Linked DNA regions of Homo sapiens: region 2 is linked to region 1. The links come from fine-mapping of genetic effects on gene expression. A gene starts in region 1. The other region holds a variant in brackets. All regions are shown on one strand. Distances are between the middles of the regions. Region 1 holds the start of PIRAT1 (PU.1 (SPI1) induced regulator of S100A8 and S100A9 alarmin transcription 1). Region 2 overlaps PIRAT1 (PU.1 (SPI1) induced regulator of S100A8 and S100A9 alarmin transcription 1).

The links. PIP is the estimated chance that this variant, and not a neighbour inherited with it, causes the effect.
Region 2: its variant is fine-mapped to the expression of PIRAT1 in whole blood (INTERVAL, PIP above 0.99).

The regions. Positions count from the first base shown.
Region 1 is chr2:37,873,597-37,878,977 of GRCh38, forward strand. It overlaps PIRAT1 (PU.1 (SPI1) induced regulator of S100A8 and S100A9 alarmin transcription 1), which reads right to left and starts at 2,267. Exons shown (of 4, transcript NR_110012.1): 1 at 2,147-2,267.
Region 2 is chr2:37,829,091-37,834,471 of GRCh38, forward strand. The region is part of intron 2 of PIRAT1 (PU.1 (SPI1) induced regulator of S100A8 and S100A9 alarmin transcription 1); the gene reads right to left. Among named protein-coding and RNA genes, the nearest start is that of PIRAT1, 44 kb to the right of the region's middle. RefSeq lists an enhancer at 4,397-4,456. The variant G/A (reference allele first, on the strand shown) is at 2,212.

The DNA of each region.
Region 1 (5,381 bases):
ACCTTCAATACAGTATCTGATATTCATTCAGTAGTTATCAAGGGTCACTTCTGTGCAGCCACTGTTCTGAACTCTCGGAATACAGAGGGAAAAAGACAAAGTGCCTGACCTCATCTAGCTTTCATTCTAATGTAGTAGCTAGGCAATAGACACATAAACACGTAAATATATACTAGAAAGCCAGCTAGTCAAGGGCATGCTTATCGTTGTTTTTTGGTTACCCAGAATCTGAACCTCCATCCTATGTTTGAGATTCCCTACCTCATGGAATCTGGTGGATAAGCAGAGCCCATGGTCCATTACATAGAATTTGAAAATGCCTGATAGTGGTTTTATCAGCCTCTCTTGTAGAAGGAGCCAAGGCCTGTGGCCAAGGCTCCACCAGCCAGACACACTGGCCCACAATTTGAGTTAGGAACCAATGACTCAAGGACAAAGAGACTGAGAAAGCCCTCATAGGAGATGGCAGCAGCTGCAGAAAGATGGGGATTCCAAGGGTGCTGGTGACAGCGGGTTCCAGCAGTGTTAGTATCTGGGACGGTAGCATTGGTGACATAACCAGTGGCAGCTGGGGCAGCAGAGATCCCACCAATTCGTGCAATGCGTGCACTCTTCTTGGCTATAAACCACTAAGCCTTCCCAAACATTCCTGGAGCTGTCAAAGTCTACACATAAATCCTTCTTCTACTTAAACCCGCCAGAGTTCCTTGTGCCCTCATCTAAGAGCTGAACACAAGTAGTAACAAGTGCTCAATCAAAAGGAAAGCCAGACGAAGGCATGGAGAGTGATGAGAGGCTACCTTAGGTAGGTGGCCAAACTCAGCCTCTCCATGGATATGGCTTTTAAGTCTCTCCAGAAAGCCCGAGAGCAAGGCCACCTGAAGACCTGAGGGAAAGAACTCCAGAGAGAGGACACAGTGCAAAGGCTGGGCAGTGACAAGCTGGGGGGCTGAGGAATACCAAGAAGGCCAGTGTAGCCTGAGCTGAGACAGAAGCTAAGTCAGAAGGACAAGCCAGGGCCACAGTTGGTGAGGCTGGTTAGATTGTCGTGTGGAGTTTGAGTGTCATGCTGCGTGTGAGGGAAGCCCCAGCTGGTTTTAAGCAAGGTGACACGGTCTGGTAGTTGAAAAGATCACCCCGGCTGCTGTCAGAAGAATAGTCTGTAGCAAGACAGGAGTGGAAGCAGAAAGATCAGAGACTCTTGCAGAGGTTCAGGAGCCAGGTAGTATGGGTCTGATCCCTCTAGGCCGAGGGCGTTTGAGTGGCGGTGGTGGGAAGAAGAAAGATGAGGAGTAGATTTTGAAGGTAGAGCTGAGAAGCCTTGCTGTGTGTTAGATGAAGGGTGTGAAGGAAAGAGACAGTTCGGGACCGAGCCGCTCTCTGAGATGGGGAAGATGAAGAGAAAGGCAAGCTGGTGGGTGGAGAAGTCAGGATCAAGAGTTTGGCTTTAGATCTAGTGAGTGGGAAACACCAATGAGGTGGAGTGGAGACAGAGTCTGCAGGGGGATGTAAGGACCTGGATGAGGTGGGGGCGAGCTGGGCGCTGGAACTAAGTGTGTGGGATTCCTCGGCACGGGGAGGAAATGTACAGCCATGAAGCTCAATATGCTCACTCAGACGAGAGTGTGGTTCGAGAAGGGGGCTCAGGACAGAGCGCTGGGGAACCAGGGATGAAGAGATCACAGCGAGGAAGAGAATCCAGCTAGGGAACTGCAGGGCGGGAGGAAGAACACAGACTACGGCGTCCTGGAAGCCAAGAAAAGAAAACAGGGGCCTTGGCAATGACCCTAGGCACTTCCAGAGGATGCTTGTATCAAGCAGGTAAGGGGACTGGGGCTCCCAGAGGATGGGCCACCCCGTTTCAGTGCATGGCCCGGCGCCTCTTTAGAAGAGGAAGCCCCTGGATTCCAGAACGTGCTGGCTCCACCCAAGGCAGACGGCAGTGAGGCCACACACTATTCCCAGCCCCTTTCTCTCTGAAAAGAGCCCTTTGTAACTTCTTTGAGAAGGAAACACCTCCGTCAGGGGAGGAACATTATTTGCTTCCTGTTAGAACAGACTTTTACTTAGGATCAAGCTCGGTGTCAGCCCCATCCCCACAGGGAGCAATAAGGGAAAGAGGAGGGAGGGGGCCGCAGACACTCACTTGTGGGGGCTGGTTTCGCAGGAACGGCTCCGGAGAGCTTGAAGAGGGGTAGGCTGCAGGCCCACAGCCGCAGTCTCTCTCAGCTAGAAACCCTCCTCCCTCCTCTGCCAGCCTGTCCTCCCCGGGCTCCGTTCGAAAGGCCTGGGAGATAGGGAGAAGGCTGGTCAGCCTGGGCGGTTAGTGGCTGGTTTAACACTTCCTTGCCTGCCAGCCCTTTCCCAGGAAGACTACAGCCAATCATTCATTCATTCAAAAGCTCTTTGCCAAGCACCTACTCTGTGCTAGGTCTGTGCCCAGCATGGGGACACAGTATTAGGCAAAAAAAAAAAAAACAAAAACCAGACATCCCCCATCTGCCCTGAACTTACAGTCTAGTGGGATAAATTAAACAAGGCACGCAAACACCTCTACAGCCACAAATGTGATAAGGCTCTAAGTGAATATCGCACATGACAGTGGCCCTGCTGAAGGCCAGGCAGAGGTTCCTTCTTGAGGAAGGACGTCTCTGAATCTCCAGAAGCCAATAGAATCTGTAGCAGCAGAAGAAAGGGTCAGGTTTCTAGAACTGCCCACTACGACTTTAGAAGCTGACGCATCTCTGTTATGCCGCGGCTGCGATGTTTTAAGTCCCCAAAGCCCAGAGCACATCGTGGAGCATGGAAGTGGTTCACTGAGAAGCTGAATCTAGTCCTGGGGCTGCTGGTGTGGAGGGTGTGTTCCGCTCTTGGGGCAGCAGCAACAGGTGCCGTGAGAGGCTCAGAGCTTTTGAAGCAGAAATGGCAATACTCTACATCTTCAGCAAATATTTGGGAGTCTTTTGTTAAAAGAAGAGCAGAATAAATATCTATGCCTCTTGTAAAACCCAAAGGAAAGCTCTCAGATAGGCTTCTTTAGGGCTATGACTATCTCTGCAGCTTCACTATACTGAGTTAAGTCTGTAGAGCATCTGTAACCCTAGGCATGTGTGTCCACAACCTCCACACGTACACAAGGACACTCCTACAGAGGACAGGCCGTGCGGACAGTTAGGGGAGGACAGTGGAGGCCGCTTCAGTTCACTTCGGTGCTTTGGATTCAAGTGTTTTTCTGTTTCATTTTCTGGGTAGCTGATTATTAAGCTAAACACTCCTTTGATGGTTGAAAATACATTAGTCCCTTTTCTTGCACGAATCTAATTCACCAAAGCCTATTAAAGTGCTTTTGGACCAATGAGGAAATTTAATGCTCAAGTATTTTATTCTGAATTCCAATTTTCCTTGTGTTATGATTTTACCTATAGGTGGTTGGGTTGATTGTATGGTAAAGATGAAAAAAAGCATATTTGGAAAGAACATGACAATTCTCAAGGTGTTTATACTACTTTACTGTATTTGATCCTTGCAACTGCCATGTGAATTAGGCAAGAAATATTTCAGTTTTACAAATGAGAAAACTTCTGTCCTGAGACATTAAGTGATATACTCAAAGGTCATATAATAATTTGTTTTGTTTTTATCTTGACTACCATACTCCTCTATACCACCTTCAGGACTCTGGAAGTCAGATATATGTGAGTTTTTTGTCAACTAAATTCATAGTTGTCTTAATATTCATCCCTTGCTAAAATTAAGGTGCAGAAATAAAATCTGTCTAATAGAGAAATATAAATCCATCTTTTGTCTGGATAATCAAATTTTACTATATTTTGTTTTAATCCTGAGAATGAAATTTTACAAATAGCTCAGGAGGTTTTCCCTAGAGTTCCAAATAAAAGTGTGTGGATCATATACACGTTCTGCTTAATCACATGACGGTTCCAAATTTTTAATTTCAATCCTTCATTACGATGAAAATTTTTGCGTTTTTTTTCCACCAGCTCTTTGTTTTGTTTTTCAATGGCTCAGGAAAGGAGAGGGGTGTGGGAGACTCTGTCTCTTTTGACAATCACCAGCGCCATCTACTGTCAAGAAATAAAATCGTGACTCATTGTTAACGCGTCAATGAACATTAGGGCTTAAAGAGGGAAAGACAATTTTATACCCCAGTACTTACTGATAAATATAAGTTCATGTACACATATTTTTATCTTATATTATTGTATTCTTAAGCAGCCTATAGGGAGAATACAATGAACTTAATATATAATTATTTATGTAATTCTTAAGAGCACTAACTTTGGAAGAGGATAAAAATGGGGTGAATTTCAGCTAAACCACTTAATAGCTACGTGATTTCTCTTACCCTCAGTCTTTTCATCTGCAAAATATGAACAATTATACTTAGAAGGTTGTTTTCTTGATTAAATGACATATGTAAAATTTACCCCAAAGCTAGCAGATCAAGGCAGCTATTGTTATACGACATTTATGGAGCACACGCTGGATATCAGCCTCTGCTGGGGGCTTGCTTCACAGCAATCCTGTGAGCTGGAGAGGCTCTGAGCTAGCAAGTACTGTGTCCAAGATTACACAACTAAATGAGAAGCATTTTTAAGTCCAATTTTCCATCTGATTTCAAAGTTGTTATCGTTTCTGCTATCTCACAGAGCATGGCTATGAATCCCCTTCTGATACATATCTGTGAAGGTTCATTTTAGGCCCACTAGGGAAGATCTGCTTTTCATATATTTATATGGGCTCCATCCTTTGTGGTCTGATGTGTGTAGCTCATTGTAGGGATGTGCCAAGTTTGCCTAACCACGCTATAGTTAAGAAAGTAACTTCAGGAAGACTCAAAGGATTTTATATGCAACCCTGATCATAACCCAAGATGAAAAGGATGATAAACCTTTTCATCTTGGGTTATGATCTACCACCCTCACAGCATTTTATACAGAATTCTCTGATACTGTTACCTACCATGTGATCGATAGTTTTGTTTTTTCTTTTCTTTTCTTTCTTTCTTTTTTCTTTTTTTTTTTTTTTTTAACAAAGCTGTCTCTCTTTCTGGAATAGAATTCCTCAAGGGCACAACTCATGCTTGATAAATCAATGAATAGATGAATGAAAAGTGATTACGTATTATAATCCCAGTGTGAAGTGATGAGGCCTTCACAAGGCCTTTGAAGATAAGGACCGTAAATTCTCCCTACACCAGCACGTGGTGATTATCCATCTGAGATTTACTGACTTCAGTTGAATCAAGTTGGCTAAAAGTTACCCTCAAGATACTTCTTTAAAGACAACCCACTTCAGAGTGCCAGTCTTTCCTCCTACACTAAATCCAAAGAGAATTTTTAAAATTCAAATTTATTCTC
Region 2 (5,381 bases), 45 kb before region 1:
TACCTCTAGTCCCAGCTACATGGGAGGCTAGGGTGGGAGGATCACCTAAGCCCAGGAGGTCAAGGCTGCAGTGAGCTGTGATCACACCACTACACTGCAGCCTGGGTGACAGAGTAAGACTGTTCCTCAAAAAAATAAAAATAAAAATAAAAATTACCTCAGTTCGTGAAAACAGCAAAGATGTGTGGCATGACTAGCTCCATTCCCTGGAATTAGGAAATATCACCACACTTATGATGAATCTTACAAAACTTAAGCCTTCCCACTCAGGGAGGGCCACATAGACATGAGAAAGTAGAGCAGAATGTGGTTGTTTTCCAGGGGAAGCTGGCTTCTAATGAGAAGGGAGGGAGGGAGGGCCTGGGCTTCCTGTGCAGATTCATTTCCCTTGGTTACCAGCAGGTCACTCACCCCACCTCCGTGGGCATTAGCCATGAGGCAAGAAGTAAGAGGAGTTTAGAAAAAAATCCTTGTTTCTGGAAACCAGAGAGGAGGGAGACACGGTTCACTCAATGAGTAGGAACTTCAATGGTTAAATGTGTCTTCTTGTAACAAACATCCATGTAACTATTTGAGGCCAGAATGAATTCTTCCTGGTGTTTCTTTAGGTGATTTCTCCAAGGGAGGCCTGTGGTATGCAGGGGATTTTTACCAAGACCAGCGTTCTCATGAGTCCAGAGGCTCATCTGCCCTTAGAGGATTGGAAGATTTGCATCCGCTTCCACAAGCTGCTAGCCTAATCCTCTAAGGTTCAAATCTGCCAGGGATCCATACCATGAAGGCAGTCCTCCTGAGTTTGCTTTGGAGTCTGACACTTTTCATTATGGACATCAGTGATTGACACCCTGATTGTACTTAGAATCACCCAGAGGGAGCTTTTAAAAAGTATTGGTACCCAGGCCCCTCCTCAAACTGAGAAAACTGAGGACTCTGTGGGTGAGCCTGGACATGGATGGCTTTACCAAGCTCTCCAGATGAGTCTAACGTGCACCCTGGCTTGAGAAGCATGGAGTGGCAGTCACAGAAGCCCAGGTTGGCAGCTGTCTCAGGCAGGAAATGTAGAATGGCAGTTAAAACTGTTAGCCCTGGAGAAGAATCCTGATCCCATTCCTTACTGAGTGTTTGTTAAGTTACTTAAACATTCTTAGTCTCCCCAGGGTGACCAAGGCCATCCGTAAAAGGAAATCCACTCCAGTAAGTGAGTTGAAGCCTTGGTCTTCATCATTTATGATGGTCAACGGAGAAGTTTCCTTTTGTTTGATGCCACCCTTCGTGTCTGTTGCAAATGGCAATGAGCCAGAACTCTGCCATGCAGATGCTCGGGTTATGCCCATGCCAGAGAGTCCAGTGTGGCTCAGGATCAATCAAAACAGAAAGTACCATCCTAAAGTCAGCGTCTGGATTTTCCCCGTCAAAACATTCAACTCCCATGGTATATATATTTTTGCTTATTCAATTCATATTTTGAATTCATATTATGAATTAGTCGAATTTTTAGATATGCTTAGTTGTTGGTCCATGTCACAGCTATCTAGCCTGTAAGGACCATTTCTTCTTGCTCTTATCTTGAGAAAATCACACACTGGTGCTTAGTTAATAAATAGTTCTTGATTATGGAAATAATTATGGCCTTGGAAGAATTCTGTTTATATAAGCAAGAACTCTTAGGTCTTAATCTTGCAACTGAAAGGGATCATAGAGACCCAGGTCTTCAAGTTGAAGGGAAACTTGCCGAGGGCCACACAGGCACTCAGAGGCAGGCCCAGATTTGACTGTTCTCTCTCCAAGTCCATTTTTCTTCCAACTTTATCATGTTGCCTCCCTATACAACCCTCTAAACTACTTCTCTCTCTTTTCTAAATCCATTTTTTTTCTGATTTCTCTTTCTGCCACAAATGTTCCGAATTTATGAAGAAAGAAAATGGAGAAAAGATTTGAGTAGACATTTCTGGTTTCCATGCTTGGATTGCTTCGGAGGATTAGTTTTACTGTTCCAGCTTGTTTCTTTATCAGTTTAAAGGGCAAAACAACTTCCACCCTTTTGAGGCAGCAAGAGGTCAGTCCTCTGCCATCCTCCCCCACGGCCAGGCAGAGCCAACTGCAGCCCATGGGTACCTTCCACCGCCTTCTTCCCTGGGATGGAGTCAGACAGACCTGCAGAGGGGCGACCACTCAGCTTGGGCAGCCAAGGCAATACCTGTCATCACTGTA[G/A]TGGGCTTGAAGCCCAGTGTCCTTCACTGCCAGCCTTGATGGCTTTAGCTGTGAAAACTCTCCTGACAAAGGAGGCTCTCACAGGCTCCAGTCATGGGAGCCCTACAGCCAGGATTTCAGGAAACTAGGGTGGAATGGGCAGAACAAGAGTTTGTCCAACAACTGAACAGGACAGGAGGTTCCTACTGCTTGGAAATCTATTTGTGTGTTCCAGAGATGTGCAGAACAAAGACCTACACATGGTTATTTTGGCAAGAACAGGAAGGTTTAGATTATCCTTTTCCACCCCGTGAAAGTGGCCACCTAAGATGTGAGTGTTGAAGGAACATCTGTTTTAACACTAACAGAGCCTCAGTGAGGGTCTCACCATGGTCTTCACTTCACAGACATAGCACAAGCAATAAGAAAGCTGCAGCTGTCGGATGCACACACAGTTAAAGGCTTTGCCTCTCCTTTTTATCTCAGTGTTTCCAACATGACAGTGAGCACCGCGTGTTCTCCAATGGGCTCTGCTCCTTTCTGCTCCCACCAGCAGCTCTGAAGTATCATGTAAGACCACATGTTGCCTCCTTAAGGTGATTTTTGGAGAGGGAATTTGGGAAATGACAAAATCAAAATATCCAGCATGAGCCTTTGCACATCGTTCATGCATTGGGTGCATGAGATGATAGAATTGGATCTGGAGGCATATGCTATGTGTAGAACAGCTTTCCCCATCTGGAGCCCAGGTGTGCAGGTTCACCCCTGAGTCCCAGACATCGGTATCAGTGAGTAGTGAGAGCAAGACAAATCCATCTCACCTACCCTTGTTCCACAGAAATGATTTTACCCCTTGAGGTACAAGGTCAAGCTCTAATTTTATTTGTAGATCAAGTTTCACAATAATTGAGCATTTGAACATGCTAAGAAAGATGGGATTTTGTAACTCATTGTTGAAAGGCAATGTGGCATAATGGTTAAGAGTTTGCATTCTGAAATTAGAGAAACTAATTCTGAAATTACAAATTTGTTCTCTTTGTGACCTTAGGAAAGTAATGCAATTTGTCCAAACTTCAGTTTCTTCATCTATAAAATAAAGATAATTATAATTCCTACCTAGAAGTATTGGTGTAGTTATGAAGAAGGAGACCACTTGTGAAAAACATAAAATACTACAAGGCCACTCGTGTCACAAAGATGCAATTCACTGGTTACTATCATTACTATCAATTTTAGAGGCACAGACTTCCTTCTAAATAAGACTCCTTTCCAAACACGTACATCTAGAGCCATTCATTCTATCTTCTCCCACTGTTAGAATGTCCTTATCTTAAGCCAAAATCTCACTACCCTTGTTTTCTGGCCTTTTAATTTGTACCTACTTTTTGAAACCGCATGGAAAAACTCAAATCCCTTTTTGTAAAGGCATTGACTGGGCCACTGTTTTGCACAGCTCAAAGGGACACAGTTCACACTGTAATCTGTGTCAATGGCACCCCCTGGTGTCCACCCCACTGGAGAGGTAAATAGGGAGGATAGAAGGGAAGAAGGGAAGGGTTGTAGAGAGGCTGGACATACTCTTTTCCATGAAAATCCCTGGTGAAGTAAGGATCGCACCAGTGTACTACCTTCCCCAAACAAAGCAGCTACAACTCTACCAACACTTCTTCATAGGACATGATCTCACATCAGAGCCCATTGTGCTTTGACCACGTTTTTCTTAAAGTGAGGTGCTCAGAGCTAAGTCAACATTCCAGGTGAGACATGACCAGGGCCCAGGAGAGCAGAATTCAACCTCCTTCATTTTTCTGTATACCATAATTAGGATGCCACTGTGATACAAGACAATCTTAGTACTGAATTCCTAGAGCAATTATTTTCTGAGCAACAGGCTTGGTTTTTAATCATACATTGTCCTATAATATCACTTCACTTGTCATGAATTGTTACCCATTTCACTTTATATAAGTGAACTATATATGTGTGTGTGTGTGTGTGTGTGTTTCTTCATACTGTCTATGTTGGGAGTTCCCTGAAATATATGTTTTTAGACATTTTAATGACTCCTGTTAAATCTAGCACGTTTCTGGGACCATAAAAATGAATCTAATTCGAATATTTAGGGAGAACCAAAGCAAAGGGACAGCATTTATTAAAATTTAAAATGGCCACTGTGGAAATGGAGTCAAGCTATTCTGTGCACACAGTGTTGCTGGGATAAAACACGCTAGAAGAAATGGCGGTAAGTTCTTATTTGGTCAATGAATCATAATTCCCCAAAAGACAAGCATGATGCTTATGGCAGCCCTTAGTAATAATTCTTCATGTGTGGTTTTCTTGCTCATATTTTCTATGTATGCGGTGATTTCCAACTACACTCTGTGGAGCCCGTGGGGTTCTGAACGGATGCTCCCAGGATGTGTGGGAGGGGCAGGAAGAGCAAGAGTGGAGGGCGGGGCTCCTGTCAGCTTTCAGTTTCCCCTAGAGCCGTCAGCCTTTCCCTGTTGTATGTATTGGCCCTCCCTGTAATATTTCCTTTGGGAATAAAAAGTTTAGAAACCATAAGTCAAGTCACACCCTGGTCACCTCAGACTGGCAGGGAGTATGATCACTTTCATGTTTCGTCTCACAAAATGGATTTCTAGGTGAAGTATATTTAAAAAGAAGGTCACCAGGCACAGTGGCTCACGCCTGTAATCCCAGCACTTTGGGAGGCCGAGGCAGGCGGATCATCTGAGGTCAGGAGTTTGAGACCAGCCTGGTCAACATGGCGAAACCCCATCTCTACTAAAAATACGAAAATTAGCTGGGCATGGTGGCGCGTGCCTGTAATCCCAGCTACTCGGGAGGCTGAGGCACCAGAATTGCTTGAACCCGGGAGGCGGAGATTGCAGTGAGCCAAGATCGTGCCAGTGCACTCCAGCCTGGGTGACAAAGCAAGACTCTGTCTCAAAAAAAAAAAAAAAAATTAGGTTAATTTCCACATTTGGCCCTAATGTGGTCAAAACTTCAACAGCTGTGGATTAAAGAGAAAGCGACCACACCATCATCACCATCACCCTCTCTATCCCTGTGAAGCCCCAGACACACACAGTGGAAATGGAATTCAGAGCTAGAGTAAACCCAGGGTCTTGACGGACACTTTCGAAACAGCACTGCAGGTTTGTGATTTCCTTCAGATTTGGAGAGAG